Linked DNA regions of Homo sapiens: region 1 is linked to region 2. Evidence: fine-mapped QTL for protein levels in blood plasma. A gene starts in region 2. The other region holds a variant in brackets. All regions are shown on one strand. Distances are between the middles of the regions. Region 1 overlaps SEMA4D (semaphorin 4D). Region 2 holds the start of SEMA4D (semaphorin 4D).

What was found. PIP is the posterior inclusion probability: the model's chance that the variant is causal. The UK Biobank Pharma Proteomics Project read protein levels with antibody pairs (Olink). The fine-mapping took linkage between variants from a reference panel, not from the people measured, so its PIPs are less certain.
Region 1: its variant is fine-mapped to the plasma level of the SEMA4D protein (UK Biobank, PIP above 0.99). The variant lies in the coding sequence of SEMA4D. If it changes the protein, the assay may bind it differently, which can mimic a change of level.

The regions. Positions count from the first base shown.
Region 1 is chr9:89,385,761-89,391,093 of GRCh38, reverse strand. It overlaps SEMA4D (semaphorin 4D), which reads left to right. Exons shown (of 16, transcript NM_001371194.2): 10 at 2,047-2,222; 11 at 2,302-2,458; 12 at 3,486-3,708; 13 at 4,612-4,727. Among named protein-coding and RNA genes, the nearest start is that of SECISBP2, 70 kb to the right of the region's middle. RefSeq lists an enhancer at 1,510-1,679. The variant G/A (reference allele first, on the strand shown) is at 2,330.
Region 2 is chr9:89,495,673-89,501,035 of GRCh38, reverse strand. SEMA4D (semaphorin 4D) reads left to right here and starts at 2,923. Exons shown (of 16, transcript NM_001371194.2): 1 at 2,923-3,117. RefSeq lists silencers at 2,834-3,023, 3,454-3,603.

The DNA of each region.
Region 1 (5,333 bases), 110 kb after region 2:
AGGGAGTGCTGGCCCCCATGTGTGACCCATTAGCCTCCTCTTCTCAGGAGGTTCTTTCTTTTAATGCACCCTCTTCAAACCTCTAGCTTATAAAAAGCAAGGCTTTGTGGAATGTATTCACCAGAGTCTGTTGGAATTTCACCATTTGGCTCTTAATCTACCTAAGAGTGAAACATTAACCGACAGCTTAAGATTAAGAAGAGAGAACCAATACAGAAGTTTGTCAAAACACAAATCTTTAAGTACATTAAAAGGGGAGGGTGCCTTTAAAATGACACACTGTAGGCACAGTGCTCAGCACAAGAGAATGGCCTATGGGCTTGATTACAGGAAATCTCAAGGTTGCTCAGTGGCAGTTTCCAGGAGGTGGATTGTCAGGCCTCAGGGGAGCTGGGGGAAACCACATGAAACACAGCCGCCATGTCCCTGGCCAGGAGCTCATCTCGGAGCAGGTAGCCATTCGTCTCTCATGGAAATTGGTAGATAGTTCTTGCGTGGCCCTTTCTCATGTAGTCATGACCATCAGGACATCAGAGAAGCAGGGTTCCTTTCATGCCTATGGCGCACAAAAGTGGGTGCCTTTGACACCGTTCCCTTAACAGCCCCTTGCATAAGGAAGAAGGTTGGGTGATGTGCACACCTGAGTATCCACCTGGTGCTTTGCTCCCTGCCCAGGCCTTCCGTAGCCAGGGCTCACTGACCAGATCCTCCAGCTGCCCCGCAGCCCCGCAGCCGTGGCTGCCATGCTCCTGTCTTGCAGACCAGGAAACCATCCTATCAACAGTATCAGTGTTGGGGGCAAGCCAGTGCCCCTTGAGATGGGGAGGGTGCTGCAGGGCCAGAGCTCCTGGCAGGCGTGCACAGTGCTCAGAATGCTGTCAGAGCAGCACTGGCCAGGGGACTCGAGCCCTCCCCTGCCATCGGGAAGCCAAGGATCAGACTTGCCTTGACCTTGACTTATTACCCAGCACTGAGGGTTTGCAGCAGGATCAGTGAGCAGATTCAGCGATGCACAGAGCAGCCACCTCCACCCCCGACAAGTTTCTACAAGTCTTAGGCACACTGCTGTCATCCCCTCTGATCCCTTTTTTTTCCCCATACTTGTTTGAACTCCTGGACTAGGGTGGTTTGAGCTTAGGCCCCACAGCTCCTGCCTACCACGCAGGCACACATGAACCCTTCACCTGCTGCCCGTGACCTGAAAGCCACATGAGACCCCTGACGAAAAATGTGCTAGAAATTATTCTTTGCTAAAACATCAAGGAGGAAAATGAAGTCCTTTTATCAAAAAGAGAATTTGGGCTCCTGTAATCACACAGCAGAGATGAAGGGGGAACATTTTCCCTGTGTCCAAAATAAGTAAGGCTGCTTCTATTTCATATTCTTCTGCACTCAGGTTTTGTGGTTTCAGTATTTCTCTCCAGACCACACACAGTCATGTGTAGTTTATAATTGTGTCTTGGTCATCGGATCCCTGAAAAGCGTTTATAAAGAACTTAGGTTCAAAGCACTTTAGCAGATACTTTGGGTAGAAAGGAAGTGAAGGATCTATTCCTTTAAAGGGAGGAAGGTTCACACATTTGCCCAAGACAGGCTGCAGGGCCGGTGGCTGTCCCCTGGAAGGAGGCTGCCGCCACTTGCCCCACCCAGAGCATGTTCATTGATGGGCCCTATGTCAGGAAAGTCACACAATGCCAGGGGCCTTGGCAGTTGGAAGTGTGTGAGCACGGCAGCACCTCTGCGGTTGCAGGACTGAATGCTGGGCACAGGCAGGCATGGACGATCAAATGAGCTTTCAGTGAGAGGGCTTTTGTCCGTTTTGTTTTGTGTGTTAACCCAGGAGCGTTCTGGGATCCAAGCTGGAACCTGGACGTGGTGCTGCGGGCCACTCACATAATTGCGGCATCTGTCTCCTGTTGCCCGAGCTTTGTTTCAGTCAGGCACAGCCGCGCTGTGCTGGGCCATGGAGGGGTGCACCTCTGACCTTAGTGCTTGCTCACAGGGGATCCACTCTCGGCCCACCACGTCTTCTTGTTGGGGTTTTAGGGGGACCAGGGCGGCCTGAGGACCTTGCAGAAGAAATGGACCTCCTTCCTGAAAGCCCGACTCATCTGCTCCCGGCCAGACAGCGGCTTGGTCTTCAATGTGCTGCGGGATGTCTTCGTGCTCAGGTCCCCGGGCCTGAAGGTGCCTGTGTTCTATGCACTCTTCACCCCACAGCTGTAAGTGCCCTGGGTGGAGTCCCCCTCCTTGCTCCCTTGATGCCGCCAGGTGGTCCCGTCACCTCTTTCCCCTCCCCAGGAACAACGTGGGGCTGTCGGCAGTGTGC[G/A]CCTACAACCTGTCCACAGCCGAGGAGGTCTTCTCCCACGGGAAGTACATGCAGAGCACCACAGTGGAGCAGTCCCACACCAAGTGGGTGCGCTATAATGGCCCGGTACCCAAGCCGCGGCCTGGAGCGGTGAGCTGGGGCACTGGGGGCGGGCCGTGCTTTCCCTTCAAGGCCCAGGGCATGGAATCCAGTACAGGCACTGGGGCCTGCTCATGGGCTGGGTACCTGGCCACGCCAAGGCTCTCTGCATTGGGACAGGGACGGCCGATGAGCACAGCTCATCCTTCTTCCCTTTTGCATGTTACGTAACAGCCATTGCTACACTATTGCACAAACAAGAAGGCTGGGGCAGCTGTTTTGCACAATTAACATTGCATAACAATTAGGTCTGTTTCATTTTCAGTTTCTTACAGAGAAACACATGATTCCTTGGCAAAGGCCTCTGCACTGTCCACTAGTCAACAGGAGTCACATTTTTTCCTCCTAAATATAGTGAACTTTATGTAGAAATTGGGAATTTCCAGGCCGATTCCTTCCCTCACATGGGGAAATGGGTGTGACAGGCATGTGCACAGCCCTCTGTGGGGCTGTGACCTACATGGGGTGTCCTGGCCCTCAGAGTTCACTGCAGCACCAGCTCCCTCCCAAGGGCAGCTGTCCCTGACACCATCATGGCTCCTTCTATGCATAGCTTCGTAAAATGTGTTCACTCATGGTCACAGATTTTGGTTTACACACATCAGGGAGCTAGAACAGGAAAAAAGAATCCCTCAGGCTCTTATGCTATTTTAAATTGTCCTGGTTTTAGCCATGTTTAGCATTCTTTTCATGAGAAAGCTGCAAATCAGTGTTCTGTTTTTTAATTTCAAAAGCTCAATAAGTGTTTTTCACTTACAAATAGATAAAAATTCCTTCCCTGAGTATGTATCGTGAATGCAATTCTGTCTTGCAGATGTGTTTTATAACTGTGTCCTCTGCTGGCTGGGGAGAGGCCACCTTTCCTCATAGTAAAGTTATTCACTGCTACCCTCATTTCAAGGCATGCATTGTGTGGTTTCCAGGTTTTGCAGCCCCCCCTGCGTTGGCTGCTTGTGTGGAAGCACCCGTTGCGTGGTGGGACACGAGCACGTTAACAGCGGGGATTTTCTCCCTGCAGTGCATCGACAGCGAGGCACGGGCCGCCAACTACACCAGCTCCTTGAATTTGCCAGACAAGACGCTGCAGTTCGTTAAAGACCACCCTTTGATGGATGACTCGGTAACCCCAATAGACAACAGGCCCAGGTTAATCAAGAAAGATGTGAACTACACCCAGATCGTGGTGGACCGGACCCAGGCCCTGGATGGGACTGTCTATGATGTCATGTTTGTCAGCACAGGTGGGTTCCGAGGGCTTGGCAGGCTTGACAGTGACAGCACATCTGTGTCCTCTGGTAGGAAAACTGGGAAATCCAATTATTCTTTCGTGAGTAGTTCCATTGCCTCCCTCGAGGTGACCTGGGAGGTTTGTGGGAGCGTAAGAAGATTTCTGAGAAGTCACCACACCAGGTGGCTTTCAGATCTGGGACCACCAGGCTACTGGAGGTACTTGTTAAAAATAAAAATGCAAGTCCTGGCCTGTGGCTGGGCTGGGCTGGGGCAGAGGAGTACTGGCCGCCGAGGAGTTGGGGCAGTGCCCACGCAGGGGGCAGGTGTGAGCCACCTGGGAGGAGGCGTCAGCCTGGCGTTTCCTGACTGCTGGCAGAGGACCACGTCCCTGCTTCCTGGCCGAGGAGCCAGGTTTTAGATGTGCCCTGGCATGTGGACTCTGAAATAAGCACTTCTGGAACAGGGACAGGGGCCAGGAGCCACGGTGGCTGGCAGCGCATTGTGGCCTGCCCTTGGAGCCTCCCAGCCAACCTCACATGCCCCCTGTCCTCACCGCCTGCCTAGGGCACTTACCAGTGACACCCCGAGGGCTGGTGGAGCATGGGAGCCCCCTCATGTGGCACTTAGCCTCAAGTGTAATGTCGACTGTTGGTGAGGATTCTTGGGGTCAACCATGGAACAGTTTATTTTCCTTGGAAAAAAACTGGAATAACCCATAACACTTGGGTTTCCAGTTGTCTGTTTTGCCAAAGCCTTTTCCTTTTTTTGTTTCTAATGCGAAATCATCATTGTTTTCTAAGTATCTGTGGAGGGAATGACTTGAGAGTGAAGAGTGTGAAGTTTGCCGCTGTGGTCACTGTCCTTGGTTTCTGTGTCTGGGTTAGTGTCACTGACCTGTAGCTTTGGCCCTGCAGACCGGGGAGCTCTGCACAAAGCCATCAGCCTCGAGCACGCTGTTCACATCATCGAGGAGACCCAGCTCTTCCAGGACTTTGAGCCAGTCCAGACCCTGCTGCTGTCTTCAAAGAAGGTAAAGTGACGCAGGCAGCTGGACCGGGGGCTTCTCCGCTCGGTGGCTTTGATTCTAGGTGACAGGAGAGTTGGCAAGCTGGAGTCGGGCTCCTGGGCAGGCCCCTCTGTCTGTCTGCCCTGGGTGAGCCAACCTTCAGAGTTTGACACAGAGCCATTCCGTGAGCTGTGGGATCTGAATTGGGGAAGGCAGGAAGGCAGACCTGGGGAGACGGGACTTTCTCTTCGAAGTTGCTGGAATGTCATTGAGTTGTTGGTGCAGCTTTACAGGCTGTGGAGAGGTGGGCACTGCTCCATGAAGACACCTTTTTATGCCCTGAGCTTGGGGGGTGTGCAGACTGCATCTGTGGGATATGATAGTGATACAGCTGACTCGTCACCGTGGAAAATCCACAAGAGAAGTGGTTCGTCTCATCTGTAAAGCTGTCTCCACCTGTGGCTGAGACTCTGGTCTGGCCTGCAATACTCCCAAGCAGCCCTTGGCAGGGGTGGGTGGGCGGGCATCCACGCTGGCCTTTAGGGGGCTGCCTCCCTGGCCCTGGCTCCTAACGGGACCTCCAACCACCTTGTGGGATCCAGGCCCAGTCAGTCCTCTCCTCCCTCAGCT
Region 2 (5,363 bases):
CCAAGCTGGAGTGCAGTGGTATATGATCTTGGCTCACTGCAACCTCCGCCTCCCGGGTTCAAGTGATTCTCCTGCCTCAGCCTCCTGAGTAGCTGGGATTACAGGTTTGTGCCACCATGCCCACCTAATTTTTGTATTTTTAGTAGAGACGGGGTTTCACCATGTTGGCAAGGCTGGTCTCGAACTCCTGACCTCAGGTGATCCGCCTGCCTCAGCCTCCCAAAGTGTTGGGATTACAGGCGTGAGCCACTGCACCCAGCCTGCTACTTTTATATCTATGTTTGAAATGTCCCACGACAGAGTGTGAAACAAGAATAAAAAGGCAAGCTTGGTCACTTTGGGAGACATAGGCAATCATGCTGAGAGAAGGGAACAGGGAAGAAGGTCAGAGAGGAGGGAAGAGGAAGACCTAATAATGGCATCCAAGTCCCGGTTCTAATGGTACTTGGGGCATCTTTGGATGCAAGTGAGCCAATAGTATGGGCTGAAGTTCTATCACTTACAACTAAGAGTCCTGTCTCCTTCATGAATGCAATAAACATGTTTGGGGGCAATTTTATATAAGCACGGTGCAAAGAAGCCCTTGTGTTCGCAGCCTGGGCATTGCGGAAAGCTTTTTGGAGTTTTTACTGAATTCTCTCATGTTCTTCTGTATGCATTAGGAAACAGGCTAGAGAGGACAGTATTCTGGAAGGTCATGATGCCAGAAGTGTGGGCCCCAGGACAGCCATGCAAAGTCTCTTCTTTGCCCTGGGCTGCCCTCTATTAGATTCTGAGCATGTGGGTCTAAAAGCCAGGAGAGAATTCAGCAGTTGTTGAGAAGCATACCCCTCTGCTGCTGGTCCCCTCCCTGCAGTGTGTTCCCAAGGTGGCCCCAGGCCTGTCTAGACGCTGGCTGTGAAGGGCACGCTCCTGTAGGGGCAGCCGGCTCTTCCACAGTGAGGTCTGTCAGAAAGCGCCCACGATAGGCAGGAATCCACTTTCTCATCTAATTTCCACCCATCTGTCCTCATTCTGCCCTTCATAACACCACAGAGTAATCCTTCTTCCCGGGACAGTTTTGCACATATTGGGGTTCTTCTGTCTTGTGCTCCACACATTGATTTTCTAGGCTGAAGACTCCCGGTGGGTCAACTCCCCTCCCACGGGATACTGCTGGCTGCCTTAGACACCAAGCAAGGGCATGGTATTCTAGATGTGTCTGACTAGTGAGGAATAAAAGAGAGTCCCCCCACCCCACCCCAATCAGTGCAATGCTTGCATGTGTAGATCCTAAGCGTGCATCCCTCCTTGGGTATAGAATGCTGTTAAACCAGTTCTGTCCTAATCCGTTCCCATTATGTTTCAATCCAAATGGGATGTGGAACATGGATTCATGGACCCCTACAATTGGAAAAGAGCTTGGAAAAGACTTCTCTAGTTTTTCCTGTAATAGTCACCAGCACTGAACCCGAGCACACGGTGCAGTGGGCTTTACCTGCCATTCTCTCTCCGTGCTCCCCAAACCCTCCAGGACGACCACACTGTCCTCATGTTGCAGGGTACAGAGGTTTGCTGAGGCCTGAGGTTATTTGGAAACTGCAGAGCTGTGAGTCAAGGGAGTCTATCAGATTCCAGGTCTGGATTCTTCAGCAAGAGGGTGGTGGCTGCCATGCCGTAGAGGGAGGAGGGGGTGCGTGCTCCACCCCACCCTGCTTGACACCAGCTTTGCCATCTTAGCCTTTGCTGGGCCGAAGCCCTATTCTCAGAGCTCCGGCACTGAACCACAGAAACCACAGGAGGCCCTAGAACGGAACTCTGAGACTGTTGGGCCTTTAACTCTGTGACTGTTGGGCCTGGGACTGGCTTCATTTGTAAACTCTGGCTCTCAGAGCCAGTGCTCAGCAGGAAAACAGCCTCAGGGCCCCTGCCCCTCAACAGCAGTCTGTAGTCCAGGGAGGTATCACCTGGCCTGGAGAGGGGCTCCCCAACTCCTCACATTTAGGGGAAATCTTAGCTGGTTCCGTAAGAAACTGTGTCCCCTTCTCAGGACTGTGTTCCTCAATAGGCCTCCCAGCCTGGCCAGTCACTGTGCGAGCCCTGTCACCTCTCCTGGGGGCAGAGGGAAGAGGTCTGGATGGAGCAGCACCATCTCTGAGGGCCCCCAGATCCCCAAACCCATGGGCTAGTCACAAACAAGTCTCACCAGCAGCCTCACAGGAGGACCATTTGCCATACAGAGTGGAAAATGATGAACGTTTGGCAAAAGGCTAGCACGGGGGTTCAGGGAAACCAAGACTCCAGGTGGTGCCAGCCCCTCCCCTGGGGAATGGGAGCAGCCTGGTGTGAAATATTCTTGCCCAAAGTCAGCAGCCAAGTGTTCTGGGTGCCACGTGCCTCACGCACACTGCAGGTCAGGTTCTCAGAAGAGCTGGCCCAGGGTCTGGGGGTGAAAAAAAACTGGGGGATTTGGGGGAGGCCTGGAAAGGGTGGGGTTCATCCAGGACCCCAGAAGGGGCAAGCTTGTCTATTGAGAGCTGGTGAGGAAGAGGGTGACAGGGCACCTCTTGGTCCTGGGAACGGGTGCTTGACTCAGCAGAGACCAACCCAGGGCTGAGGGACAACCCTCTGGGCCTGGCGGGGAGGCAAGAGAGATGGGAGGTGAGGAGGAAGGAGTGGGGAGCAAAAGTGGGGAGAAGGGGAGAGAGGTGGAAGAGTGTTGCGAAGGTGAAGAAAGAGGAGGAAAAAGAGAAGGGAGGAAAAGAAAGGTTGGGGGAGGGAAAGGAGGGAGGTGAGCAGGGGCGAGGAGGAGGGAGGAGGAAGGAGGAAGAAAGGGGCGGGGCCATAGGAGGGAAGAGAAGAAGGGGGAGAGGAAGGGGAAGGGAAAGGGGAGGAGGCGGGAAGGGAGGGGGAGCGGAGGAGGGGCCTGCGCGCCCGCCCCGCGCACTCCGTCCCCGCGCCGGCCTCAGCGCTCTCGCGCGCCGCAGCATCCCAGCCGCCGCTGCCGCCGCCGGGCCTCCCCGCCACCCCCTCCCCGGCCCGGCCGCCTCCCGCCGCTGCCGCCGCCGCCGCCGCCGCCATTCCTGGCGCCCGAACTCGCCCGGCCGGGAGCCGCCGCGGGCAGGACGCGCGCTGCAGGTAAGCGGCCGGGCTGGCGCGGGAGGGAGGGCGCGCGGGGCCGGGCAGGTGCGCTGGGGGCGGCCTGGACCCTCCGCGGAGCCCCCACTCCACACCCCTAGGCTCCTCACCGGACCCTCGGGGCCCTCCCCGAACCCCTGCAGGAGCCTCCTTCTGGGATCCCCGGACCCCTGGACTCCTTCCTGGATCCCCCCGGGGCCCCTCCTGGGACGCCTCCCAGAGACACCTACCCGGACCCCTCCGACCCCCTGGACCTCTCTGCTATCCCTCCCCGGCCTTCTCCCCTTCCCGGTTGCCTCCCCAGTCCCTGCGCGCAGGTGGCTCCTCTGGGCGCGGGGGAGCGGGGGCGCGCTGCATACCCGGGCCAGGGAGGGGGCGGTGCGCTCGGCCAGGCCCCGTCGCGCCCCGGCCCGCCCAGTCCGGCCCCGCCAGGTCAGGCCCCACTCCGGCCAGCCGGGCTCTGGCCGGGCCCCCGCGGGCTTCTATTTTGGTCGCGGAGGCCGCGGACCCTGTGCACTGGACCCGGCGCCGCGCACTCAGACAGGTGGGGCAGGTTGGGCCGCAGTGGTCAGGTCGCCGCCTTGGCAGTGAGTGCTGCAGGCCTCGGTTTCCTTTCGGGTTTTGGTTGCATTATTCTAGAACAGCCCAGGAGAACCACAAGCCTTAGCTTGGGCTGCACCTGTTGCAGCCGCCTAGTGAGCTGCAAGGGGCTGGCTCTACTGGGGTTATGCCAGTAAAAACGTGTAAAGGAGAGTTGAACTCGTGGTTGTCCTCTATTTTCTGGCTTAGTATTTTGGGGGGTAGGTGGGAGAGTGGGTGAATGGGAGTCTGTAAGTGGGCAGTTTGCGTCAAATGAGGCCTGGTGTCGAGGGCTGGGTCCTGCTTTCCGGAAGGTTTTCCACATGAAGTTGCTTTGCTTTTGTTTTGAAAACCTCACTCTGTGTTGAGCACATCCCAGGCTCGTGGGTGGCCAGGCCCCCGAAGGCCAAGCTGGACGTGGGGCCTGGGGCCAAGCATCTCACCCTGCTGTTCTGAGTCTTTTCAAATCCACCAGGCGCCACGGAACGGAAGTTTCCTTTCCTGGGGGTGACGTGACACCAGTGGCCTGTCACCTCATATGTGTCCTAGGCCTGGGGCCTGCCTGCTGGCTGCCCAGGCGAGGTTATTTGGGAATGTTTACTGTGTCCCAGAAACAGGCAGCTCTGGCCAGTGCAGGGGCAGGATTCTGGTAGAGATGATAATGCCCTGATTGTCATTTTGACAGTTGGTGTCTGCGTATATCATGTCTTGGTAGTCGTCAGCCAGAAGAAGAAAGCAGGCGGGCTCAGCATACCCACCAGGGAGGCTGGGGTGGGAAGATGAGGGATGCACTGGCCTGTTTCTGTGAGCAAAGACTGCCCTCCCATAAGGCCAGACCTTCAGACTGAGAAGAGTGTACGTGGTACACTCAGCGAGTCAAACAAAGAAATAGAAACACATCACTGGTGCCAGGAGCAGCCCTGGGGTCCCAGGAGGGTGGGCCGCTTAGGAGTTGGTAGACGGTGGAACTCAGTGGCTGTATTTCAGAGTGCAGACAGGCAAAAGGCCACCGTGGGGATGCAGAGCCCCAGCTGCCATGCCAGCCCAAGGTCTTGCAGCACAGCACAAGGGAGGGACTCCATGGGAGGGGGCCCACCTCCTGAGAAGCACACCCAGAGTCTGTTGAAAATGCAGCCTTGCACAGACCCCCCTGAGTGCCTGGGGTCCTGGGCTGAGGTTTAGAGTGCAAGACCAGCGACCATGTTGCATTTGATATCCAGTGGGTCTGGGGCCAGGGAGATGTCCTTGGTGACATCATCCACTTGTGGACAGTCCTCTCCATGTGGACCGCTGGAGGCAGATGTTACCTAGAGCCGCTTTCCCCACACCAAGCGGGTGTGTCTAGGCCAAAGCTTGGGAGTGCACGCTAATGGCCAGCTTTGACTGAGGAGGGAGGGAACGTCCGCTGCTGACAGCACAACAGCAAAATCAATAATGCATTGCAAAGATCAATGGTTTTCTCTATCTTCTGTGCTTCTGCATTGAGGCTGTTCAGGCTTCTGCCTCTCTTGGTTCCATTTCTGTTGGGGAGGGAGGGATGGGCGGGTCCAGGAGGGTGGTTGCAGATTCTCCTCCTGACCCCTGGAGCCAGAGCTCCAGGGTTGGAGCTAGGACCCATGGGGATGAAACTTGCCACGTGAAAATATAGAAATAAACGTGCCGTCGGC